Homo sapiens: one gene and its partners. The protein of the gene in region 2 purifies or fractionates together with the protein of the main gene of each other region. This does not show direct contact. Each region holds a gene or a part of one and is shown on either strand. Other genes may lie near its edges. The genes, in order: PEAK1, SH2D2A and HAVCR2.

Region 1 (3,726 bases), on a different chromosome or scaffold from region 2:
GTGGACGATGCCATCGCCTTTGGAGGGAAAACAGACCAAGAAGCACCCAATGCTTCCCAACCTACACCACCCCCACTGCCAAAGAAGATGATCATAAGAGCCAATACAGAGCCAATCTCCAAGGACCTCCAAAAATCCATGGAAAGTAGTCTTTGTGTCATGGCTAATCCCACCTATGATATCGACCCCAACTGGGATGCCAGCAGTGCTGGTTCTTCCATCAGCTATGAACTCAAAGGACTGGACATTGAGTCTTATGACTCCTTGGAAAGGCCTTTGCGCAAGGAGAGACCTGTCCCCTCAGCAGCAAACAGCATTTCCAGCTTAACCACTCTCAGTATTAAGGATAGATTTTCCAACAGCATGGAATCCCTCTCCAGCCGGCGTGGGCCCTCTTGCAGACAGGGCCGAGGCATCCAGAAGCCGCAGAGACAAGCACTTTATCGAGGACTTGAGAATCGGGAGGAAGTAGTGGGTAAAATCCGAAGCCTTCATACAGATGCCTTGAAGAAACTGGCTGTTAAATGCGAAGACCTTTTCATGGCTGGGCAGAAAGACCAGCTCCGTTTTGGAGTGGACAGCTGGTCAGACTTCAGGCTAACCAGTGACAAACCATGTTGTGAGGCAGGTGATGCGGTTTACTATACTGCTTCATATGCAAAAGATCCACTTAATAACTATGCAGTCAAGGTAAGAAAATATTATAAATCTCATGTTAAGTCTTAACCACTACATTGTTACTGGGATGGATTCATTCTGCTTTTCTCCTTTCTTTCCTTCATTCTTCCATTCAGCAAATTATTGAGCATCTACCTCTTACCAGATACTAGATTAAGCAGGGGGCTTATTTATTATTTAAAGAAAACAGATACGTAACTTAACAGAATTACAACAGTATACTGCATGCAAAGATAGAGGTAAACAAGAATTCTATGGGATCTTGGAGATACCTTAACCCAAACTCAAGAAGTCAAAGAAGTCTTTTTTTTTTTTTTTTTTGAGATGGAGTTTCACTCTTGTTGCCCATTGTGGAATGCAATGGTGCAATCTCGGCTCACTGCAACCTCCGCCTCCCAGGTTCAAGCAATTATTGTGCCTCAGCCTCCCGAGTAGCTGGGATTACAGGTACCTGCCACCACGCCCCGCTAATTTTTATATTTTTAGTGGAGATGGGGTTTCACCATGTTGGCCAGGCTGGTCTCAAACTCCTGATCTCAGGTGATCCTCCCGCCTTGGCCTCCCAAAGTGCTGGGATTACAGGTGTGAGCCACCATGCCCAGCCAAAGAAGTCCTTTTAAAGTAGGTAACCTGGCCAGGCATGGTGGTTCATGGCTATAATCCCAGCACTTTGGGAGCCCAAACCAGGTGGATAGCTTGAGCCCAGGAGTTCGAGACCAGCCTAGGCAACGTGGTGAAACCCTGTCTCTAAAAAAAAAAATAGAAAAAATTAGCCAAATGTAGTGGCTCATGCCTGTAGTCCCAGCCACCCAGGAGGCTGAGGTGGGAGGATCACCTGAGCCCAGGAGGTCAGGGCTGAAGTGAGCCATGATCGGGTCACTGCACTCCAGCCTGGGCAACAAAGTGAGACCCTGTCTCAAAAAAAAAAGTAGGTAACCCTTGAGCTTTGCTTTTTGCAAGGGCTACCTAAAAATATGAGGTCTGTTATGTACCTTTCACTGCATGTTTCTGTCTTTTTTTTAGGCTGGAGTGCAGTGGCATGATCATAGCTCACTGCAGCCTCAGGTGTGTGCCACCACATGACTGATTTTTTTGGTTTTGGTAGAGGTGGTGGTCTCACTATGTTGCCCAGGCTGGTCTCAAACTCCTGGCTTCCAGTGATCCTCCCACCTTGGCCTCCCAAAGTGCTGGGATTACAGGCATGAGCCATCATACCTGGTTTATGTTTCTGACTTTACCCTTTACCAGCTAAGAAATGCTTGTCTACCTCTGCTCTGTAACTCCTTTGCTCCCTAGAGAAACATTTTTATAGAGGAGGATAACTAATGTTTATTGATGTTCCTGGAACTATATTTTTGTTATGTAATTTAATCTTCACATCAACTTTATGAGATTAAGATCTTTTTCTCCATTTGACATATGAGGAAAATGAAGCTCCAAGAAGTAGGCTGACTTGGTTAGGATCACACAGCTAGCAAGTGGTAGAGCTGAGTTTTTTGTTGTTGTTTTTGTTTTGTTTTGTTTTGAGATGGAGTCTCACTCTGTTGCCAGGCTGGAGTGCAGTGGCACGATCTTGGCTCACAGCAACCTCTGCCTCCCGGGTTCAAGCGATTCTCCTGCCTCAGCCTCCCTTGTAGCTGGGACTATAGGTGTGCACCACCATGCCCAGCTAATTTTTGTATTTTTAGTAGACACGGGGTTTCACCGTGTTGGCCAGATGGTCTCAATCTCTTGACCTCGTGATCCGCCCACCTTGGCCTCCCAAAGTGCTGGGATTACAGGCGTGAGCCACCATGCCTGGCCAGAGCTGAGTTTTAATCACAAATATTTCTGACTCCATAGCTGTATTTTGTCCATTGTGCCACTTATCAATTTCTTACATGTGGATTGCTTATTTCAGATAACCCACTTCTTCAAGACAGCTAAACTCTTGACATCAAGAATTCTTGCCCAGTTACATTCACTGTAGCAGAAAGCCATAGGTTTCATCAATATAATAAATAAAGTGTGGACTTTGAAGTCCAAAAGATTTGGGTTCAGATCCTGGTTCTGCCTCTTAGTAGCTTTGTCAATAATGGCACCCATCTTATGGAGCTGTTGTTTGGTTAAAAGAAAACAAAATGTCCCTAATAACTGTTCATTTCATTAACTAGCCACTAGCTTCTTCCCTAGGTTACTTTAAGAGAGTAACAATCTTTGAGCCTCAATTTCCTCCTCTTTCAGATGTTTACAGTGAGTGTAGGATCAAGTGAGATAATGCATATGAAAGGTTTTTGAAGAACACAAAGCCCTATATGTAAACTTAAGGTAGTGTCCTCCATTCCCATAGTCCCTTTTTACTGATTCTATTCACTGGTTCAAAACCAATTAACATATCTAAATGACTTTTACATGTTAATTAGGCTTAGAAAGACCAGATGGTATCTTAGCAAATTAATGGATAAGGTAACGATTGGCCTTACCTGTCTATCAAGACAGAATGTATGTTTGAAACAGACCTTCAGCTAGCTACCCTCTGCAGTTACAGTATCTACACCAGTTGACTGTCTGATGTCACTGGCAGAGTAACCCTGTGCTCCAGCTCACACTTTTTAAATTAAACTGAGGGATAAACTGTAAAGAGGGGGATCTGGATTCAAGTTAATACATTACTATTGAGTTTAAAAAGGTATTTTGAGATTCTATATAGCACTTAAGAGCTGTTATATAAATTGAGGTTATGGTGCCTTATCTATCTTGGGCCCTTATTGCTGCAAAATCACCAATGCAGGATGAGTACCTGTTTCAGAAAGGGACATTGAACTATCTGTTCTTTCAAAACAGTTGAGAAGTAGGACTTGACTAACTTTATGTATTATTGCCGTGGAATCTTGTCTCTTTCCCAAATCAGTGGTCTGGTATTGATTTCTTTGCTTATAATGATGTAAAACCAATCTCCAAAGAACAGATGGCAAGTGGTTATATACTAGGAGTTGTTGGCAGGTTTGGAAAAGGATATTTTACACTAAATGCTAAATATAAATGTCTCTTTTAAGACCCTCTGGTATT
Region 2 (3,500 bases):
TAATTTCTTCTGGAACACAGGGCCAGGCCAGATTCCATTTGTGCCTGTGGTTCTGAAAATGCAACATGGCTTTACACGTCTTTAACTGAAAAATTATTGACATGGGGACCAATCTCCATGACAGCTGTGCTTGTGTTTATTTCTGTACTGCCGGTTACTTTATGGAAATATAAGCTATTTTTTTTTTTTTGAGACCAAGTCTCATTCTGTCATCCAGGCTGGAGTGCAGTGGCGCAATCTCGGCTCACTGCAACCTCCGCCTCCTGGGTTCAAGACATTCTCCTGCCTCAGCCTCCCAAGTAGCTAAGATTACAGGCGCCCACCACCACACCCAGCTAATGTTTGTATTTTTTAGTAGAGATGGAGTTTTGCCACGTTGGCCAGGCTGGTCTCGAAATCCTGATCTCAGGTGATCCGCCACTTTGGCCTCCCAAAGTGCTGGGATTACAGGTGTGAGCCACTGCGCCCGGCCATAAGCTAACATTTTTAAGGGCAGAGACCACCTCAGGAGAGAGGAGCCCCATGTGGGATGGTTCCGTCTCACAGAGGGTCTGCTTTTAGCTCCGTGTTAGCCCTTGGTCCATGAATGCTGTCCCCATGCCTGCTGCCACTGTAGGCTAAGGTCACAGGGCTTTTCTTGTGCTCCTGCAATCCACCAAGTGCATGTCTCCATCGGGAGGTGTACTGCAGATATACTGTGGAAATCAAAGAATTCTTTTTCCTGCCCTAACCCCCTCCTCTCTCAGCATCTCCTTCCGGAATAAAAAGTAGCACCTCCACCCTGCTGCCGAAACAGCACCTTAGGAGTCATCCTTGATGCCTCCACCTCCTCCCTCTTGACATGAAATCAAACACAAGTCCTGCTCCTTCCACTGTCTAAATATCGTTCACATCTGAGTACTTTTCTCCATGCACATGGCCAGCACCCTAGTTCAGGCCTCCTGACTCCTCCCCCTGCATCGTCTTGCCCTTCCAATCCACTCTCCAGTCTTCGAGCAGAGCAATCTTACAGAAACTCCCCTAGCAATCCTTGGGTGGCAGCCCATTGCCCCAGAATAAGTCAGACTCCTGAGAGCTTGAGTGACAAGACTCTGTGTGATCTCAGACTTCTACAGCTCTGCCTTCAGGCTTCTCAGGTCAGGCTGGCTCCTCCTCACCCCCAGACTTCCCTACGCCCTGTGAATCTCAGGTCTCTGCCTGTTCCTCACAGAAAAGGCAGTGACCACAGGCACTGTCCCCACTTGTTTTAACTGACCCAAATCAAGTTCTGTGAAACTCTTCTTGTCTAGGTCACCAATGACCTCCTCTCTGTCAAACCTAGTATCAATTCCACCCTCTGCCCTCACCCGCCTTCACTCACTTTCTTCGCTTGGCTTCCAGAGCATCACACTCTTCTGGCTTTTCTCCTCTTTCTGAGCGCTCTGCTCTGTTTTCTTTGTCAGTTCCCCCTCATTTCTGCAAACTCTAAATGCTGGAGACCTGGGCTTCATTTCCTTCCCACCTACACTGACTTCCGAGTGAGATTTCTCCCCTCCTAAAGGTTTTAGAGTCCATCTAAGTGCTGGTGACTCTCAATATTTGTCTGCAGCCCATCCCTTTGTCCCAGTCCCCAGACTCTGAATTCCAGCTGCCTACTTGACATCTCCATGCTGAACTGCACGTGTAGAAAACAGAACTCCTGATCACCTGCCTCCTGCCTGGATGTGTTCCTCCTAGAACTTTTCTCAACTCAGTCAATGACAAGTCCATCTTTTCACACTCCTCATCCAATCCCACAAAAACCCAGCAGCTCCACCTTCTGAGGAGACTTCCACCCTCCTCATGCCTCCTGGAGGCACCCACCTCTGCTACCCTGACCCAGGCTGCCATCATTTCATGTGAAATATTGCTCCTCCCGAAACTTGCCAGGCCATGTCACCCCTCAGCTTGTAAGTCTCCAGTGCCACCTCGTCTCGCTCAGAATAAAACTTCAAATGCATACAAGAGTCTACAGGGCCCCCCTCCCTCACCCCTCTGATCTCATCTCCTACCTCTCTATCCCTCAGTCACCGGATCCACCCATGCTAACTTCCTCTCTGCTCCCATCATTCCTCAGACACACCAAGTCTCCTCCTGCCTCAGGGCCTTTGCACCTGCTGTGCCTGCTGCCGAGAATGCTTTTCCTCCAGTTGTCTGCATGGCTCTTCTCCTATTTCATACAGGCCTCTATTCAGATGTCCGCTTACCCGAGTGGCCTTCCCTGACACCCTGTGTAGAACAGCCCCAATCCTGTCACTCTTCAACAATATTTCACATGAAATGATGGCAGCCTGGGCCAGTGTAGCAGAGGCAGGTGCCTCCAGGAGGCATGAGGAGGGTGGAGGCTGGGTCTGCTTGGAAGGTGGAGCTGCTGGTGGAGCTCTTTGGTTTTCTTGTCAGTGTGTACTCATCATTACTAGACAGACTCTGTCTTCTTTGCTTGTTATCCATATTACTCACTCGTCTGTCTCCTCCTTCTAGAATGGAAGCTCTTGAAGGCAGAGATATTCAGGTCATTTACATTCACTCCTGTTTTTCCAGTGCGCAGAAAGTTGCGTGGCACACAGTGGTCCCTCAGCACTGCCTGAACTTGTGCACCGCTGCCTGCTAGGCTAAATGGTACCCTGTATTTCTTCTTGAATCACAGTCTCCACCCTGGATTTCTATTACTTGTCTGTTTTTGCTGCTGGAAAGTAGGCTTTGTGAGTTTGAGATCCATCTGTCTGTCTTGTTCATGGGTCTGTTCTCAGGGCCTGCCAGCAGTTGGTAGGCCCTAAGTACTCCGTAAGTATCTCTTACATTAAAAAACAAATGACTAGGCTGGGCGCAGTGGCTCACGCCTGTAATCCCAGCTACTCAGGGGTCCCATTCAGGAGACCCCCGCATCCTCCCCTGGCCTCATCCTGGAAGGGCAGCCTGCAGGGGCTGCTACTGCAGCAACAGGGATGGGAAAGTAAGTAGTTGGACTTCCAGATTTCAGAAGTCAAAGCTGAAAATACCAGGTGGAAAATACCAGCATTCGAGGCCTTAGGGATAGGAGGATAATGGGGCCTAGAGGGGGGAAGCTGACTCAGGAGGCTGAGGCAGGAGAATCACTTGAACCCGGGAGGTGGAGTTTGCAGGGAGAGAAGATCGCGCCACTGCACTCCAGCCTGCGCGACAGAGCGAGACTCTGTCTAAAACAAAGCAAAAGAAAACAAAAAACAAAACCCCAAATGACTCTGTGTGCCCCTGGCCTCTCCTTGCCCCTCTGACTCCGTGTGGCTGGGCTGGTCTCTTAAGGACGGTCCCCCAGCACTCATATTTCTCGAAGGGCCTGCCACCCTCCCATGAAGATGAAGATGCCTGGGTAAGGGAGGCATGCCCGAGTGGTGTTTCGGGATGAGAAAGTGCCTGGTGCCGCGTCCTGCGCCTGGGCTCTGAGCGGGAGGGGCGCTGGCCCGAGACCCTGGGCTCTCTGGTCAGGGTCTGGGGCGCGTACC
Region 3 (3,726 bases), on a different chromosome or scaffold from region 2:
GATCCCTGCTCCGATGTAGATGCCTATTCTGATGGTTGCTCCAGAGTCCCGTAAGTCATTGGCCAATCTAGAGTCCCGTAACTCATTGGCCAATGTGGATATTTGCTATGGAAACACAAACAGGATTTAAGCAGAAAACAGCTAGAAATCGCTTGTGTAATCAGCTTCAAGATTTGTGAATTGGACCATCCCTTTTACAACATCACAGGATGGCTGAGTCCTTCAAATCACCTTTGATCTGTCACCTTGTAGCCAACACTCAAGCCAACCCAAGAAAGGGTCTCCCTTAACCTTTGGAGTTAGCAAGGAAACAAAATGTGCCCTTCTGTGTTGTGGGTAGAGAAGGAGCTCTTAAAAAAAAAAAAAAAAAAAGAGAGAAGGAGCTCTTAAGACCCTTTCCCTGCCCCTGCAAAAATTGGCTTTAGAGTGGAGTCTTGTTGGTTCAAGATCCCCTAAGATTCCCCAGAGAGTTTTAGAGTAGTTTACATTTAGTGTCTTGCTATGAAACGTCTATTTTTCACAAAAAGACAGTGATTCAATAGCCAAGACTTTACAGCCAGACGGTCGTGGATTCAAATCCCAGCTCTGAGGCCGGGCGCGGTGGCTAATGCCTGTAATCCCAGCACTTTGGGAGGCCTAGGCAGGCGGATCACCTGACATCAGGAGTTTGAGACCAGCCTGGACAACATGGTGAAACCCCGTCTCTACTAAAAATACAAAACTTAGCCAGGCGTGGTAACACATGCCTGTAATCCTAGCTAGTGGGGAGGCTGAGGCAGGAGAATCACTTAAACCCAGGAGGCAAAGACTGGAGTACTCGAGTTGAGATCATGCCACTGCACGCCAACCTGGGCAACAGAGCGAGACTCCATCTCAAAAAAAAAAAAAAAAAAAAAATTCCCAGCTCTGCCACTAAGGGCTGAGTAATCCTGTAGAGTTATCAGGAAAACTAAGTGAGAGAAAATATAAAATGCTTAGTACAGGGCCTGGTACATAATAAATGTTCAATCAATCGTAGCTATTATTGCTATTGCTCTAGTTAACTTGATTTTCTGATAACTGAGAGCCACACAAAATAAATCCTGTTTCTAAAATTTCAGTCTATGGGTTCTCTCTTTTTCTCTCTTTAAAAACAATGATTAGGCCAGGTGCGGTGGCTCACGCCTGTAGTCCCAGCACTTTGGGAGGCCAAGGCAGGCAGATCACGAGGTCAGGAGTTCAAGACCAGCCTGGCCAACATGGTGAAACCCCATCTCTACTAAAAATACAAAAATTAGCCAGGTGTGGTGGCGGGCACCTATAGTCCCAGCTATTTGGGAGGCTGAGGCAGGACAATCGCTTGAACCCAGGAGGCAGAGGTTGCAGTGAGCCAAGGTTGTGCCATTGTACTCCAGCCTGGGCGACAAGAGCAAAACTCCATCTCAAAAATAAATAATAAATTAATAAATAAATAATAATTATAGGCCAGGCTCACACCTATAATCCCAGCACTTTGGGAAGCTGAGATGGGAGGATCACTTGAGACCAGGAGTTAGGGACCAGCCTAATAATATTGAGACCCCATTTATACAAAACACACACACACACACACACACACACACACACACACATATAATTATAAGCATTTTTAAAACAATGAATTTAAGGAAGTTAAATCTTCCATTTATTCAATATACATTTACAAATTGATTCAATACACATTACTCCTGCAATAACAGGAGTCCTATATGCAAGATATTGTGCATTAAGCATTGTGGGCACATACAGGTCCTTAAAAAGCACTGTTTGATTGCAAAGAGAGAAGGAGCAAATACAAGATGCTGAGCATCAGTTGTGAATACACAAGCAAGAAACTGAGTCAAATAAATGTGGGCTCCTGGATATGCCCTCAAGTAATTTTTTTTTTTTTTTTTTTTTTGAGACAAGGCCTTGCCCTGTCACCTAGGATGGAGTGCAGGGGCATGATCACAGCTCAATGCAGCCTCAACCTACTGGGCTCAAGTGATCCTCCTGCCTCAGCCTCCCAAGTAGCTGGAACTACAGGTTTGCAGCACCATGCCTGGCCAAATTTTAAAAAATATTTTTTGTAGAGACAGGGTGTCACTATGTGGCCCAGGCTAGTCTCAAACTCCTGGTCTCAAGCATTCCTTCCACCTTGGCCTCCTAAAGTGCTGGGATTACAGGCATGAGACACTGTGCCCGGCCTCCTCAAAGAATTTTTAAGTCATTGCTGCAAGCTTGCCTTCTAGTGGTTTTTCTTTTATGAGGGAATTTCGCTCTTGTTGCCCAGGCTGGTGTGCAGTGGCGCGACCTCAGCTCACTGCAACCTCCACCTCCTGGATTCAAGCGATTCTCCTGTCTCAGCCTCCTGAGTAGCTGAGACTACACAGGCACACACCACCATACCTGGCTAATTTTTTGTATTTTTAGTAGAGATGGGGTTTCACCATGTTGACCAGGCTGGTCTCAAACCCCTGACAGGTGATCCACCCTACTTAGCCTCCCAAAGTGCTGGGATTACAGACGTGAGTCACTGCGCCCAGCCAGTTTTTCTTTTATTCTGAGAAGGTAGCAGGGACAGTAAAATTGAGGTTTATTAAGGTATGGCTTTATTTATAGTTAAATACATAAAACTGGCTGGGCACCATGGCTCATGCCTGTAATCCCAGCACTTTGGGAGGCCAAGTTGGGCGGATCACCTGAGGTCAGGAGTTCAAGACCAGCCTGACCAACATGGAGAAACCCTGTCTCTACTAAAAATACAAAATTAGGCCAGGTGCCATGGCTCACGCCTGCAATCTCAGCACTTTGGGAGGCCGAGGCAGGTGGATCACCTGAGGTCAGGAGTTCAAGATCAGCCTGGCCAATGTGGTGAAACTCCGTCTCTACTAAAAATAAAAAAATTAGCCGGGTGTGGTGGCTCATGCCTGTAATCCCAGCTACTCGGAAGGCTGAGGCAGGAGAATCGCTTGAACCCGGGAGGCGGAGGTTGAGGTGAGCCAGGATCACACCCTTGCACTCCAGCCTGGGCAACAAGAGCGAAATTCTGTCTAAAAAAAAAAAAAAAAAACCTCTTCACTTTGAATATTCCTGACTGGTGTCTTGCCATATTTAAAGAGATAAATTTAAATACTCTTTCCCATTAGGATTGCAATGGAAGCAAGAAGAATGGTATTCTAGGGAGATGAAGAATCTTTGAACCTTCCACAGGGTAGACAGTTGTGAAATTGAAGAATAAGAGGGACAAAATGCTAATGTTTCTTCTTTGTGGTTTTCAAGCTCTTACTATATGCCAGGCACTTTACACACATCATGTCAGTCCTTCATTACAGCAGGCCTATGAGGTTAGAACTGTCATCATCAACATGTTACAGCCCAGGAATCTGAAGCTAAGGGAACTTAAGGCTTTTTACCCCAAGGACAAGGTGGGCATGAAGGAAGTCTAAAGCCATGATTTCCCCTCCAAGTTGAGTACAACATAGCTCACAAAAAAAGTTACTTACTGTTAGATTTATATCAGGGAGGCTCCCCAGTGTCTGTGTCTCTGCTATAAAAAGAGAGAGAGAGAGAGAGAGAGGAAAAATAGCCAATAGTATAGTTAAGAACGTTTTCTTTTATCTAAGTTTTTAAAAAATCTTAATGATGCCTATAATCCTATTTGAAATGAATTCTACTCCGTACTTGTCACAATAATTAATGGAGAGACAGACAAAATTTACTGAACAC

What was found.
Region 1: the proteins of SH2D2A (region 2) and PEAK1 purify together in Homo sapiens (affinity purification with mass spectrometry; 3 studies listed by BioGRID and IntAct, with this or other methods). This does not show direct contact.
Region 3: the proteins of SH2D2A (region 2) and HAVCR2 purify together in Homo sapiens (co-immunoprecipitation; one study listed by IntAct). This does not show direct contact.

Annotation. Positions count from the first base shown.
Region 1 is NC_000015.10:77,129,969-77,133,694, reverse strand, and holds part of PEAK1 (inactive tyrosine-protein kinase PEAK1), read left to right. Parts: coding exon 1-690; intron 691-3,726. UniProt on the Homo sapiens protein: Probable catalytically inactive kinase. Scaffolding protein that regulates the cytoskeleton to control cell spreading and migration by modulating focal adhesion dynamics. Acts as a scaffold for mediating EGFR signaling.
Region 2 is NC_000001.11:156,810,349-156,813,848, forward strand, and holds part of SH2D2A (SH2 domain-containing protein 2A), read right to left. Parts: coding exon 3,500-3,500; intron 1-3,499. UniProt on the Homo sapiens protein: Could be a T-cell-specific adapter protein involved in the control of T-cell activation. May play a role in the CD4-p56-LCK-dependent signal transduction pathway. Could also play an important role in normal and pathological angiogenesis.
Region 3 is NC_000005.10:157,095,355-157,099,080, forward strand, and holds part of HAVCR2 (hepatitis A virus cellular receptor 2 precursor), read right to left. Parts: intron 3,548-3,726; coding exon 3,504-3,547; intron 106-3,503; coding exon 1-105. UniProt on the Homo sapiens protein: Cell surface receptor implicated in modulating innate and adaptive immune responses. Generally accepted to have an inhibiting function.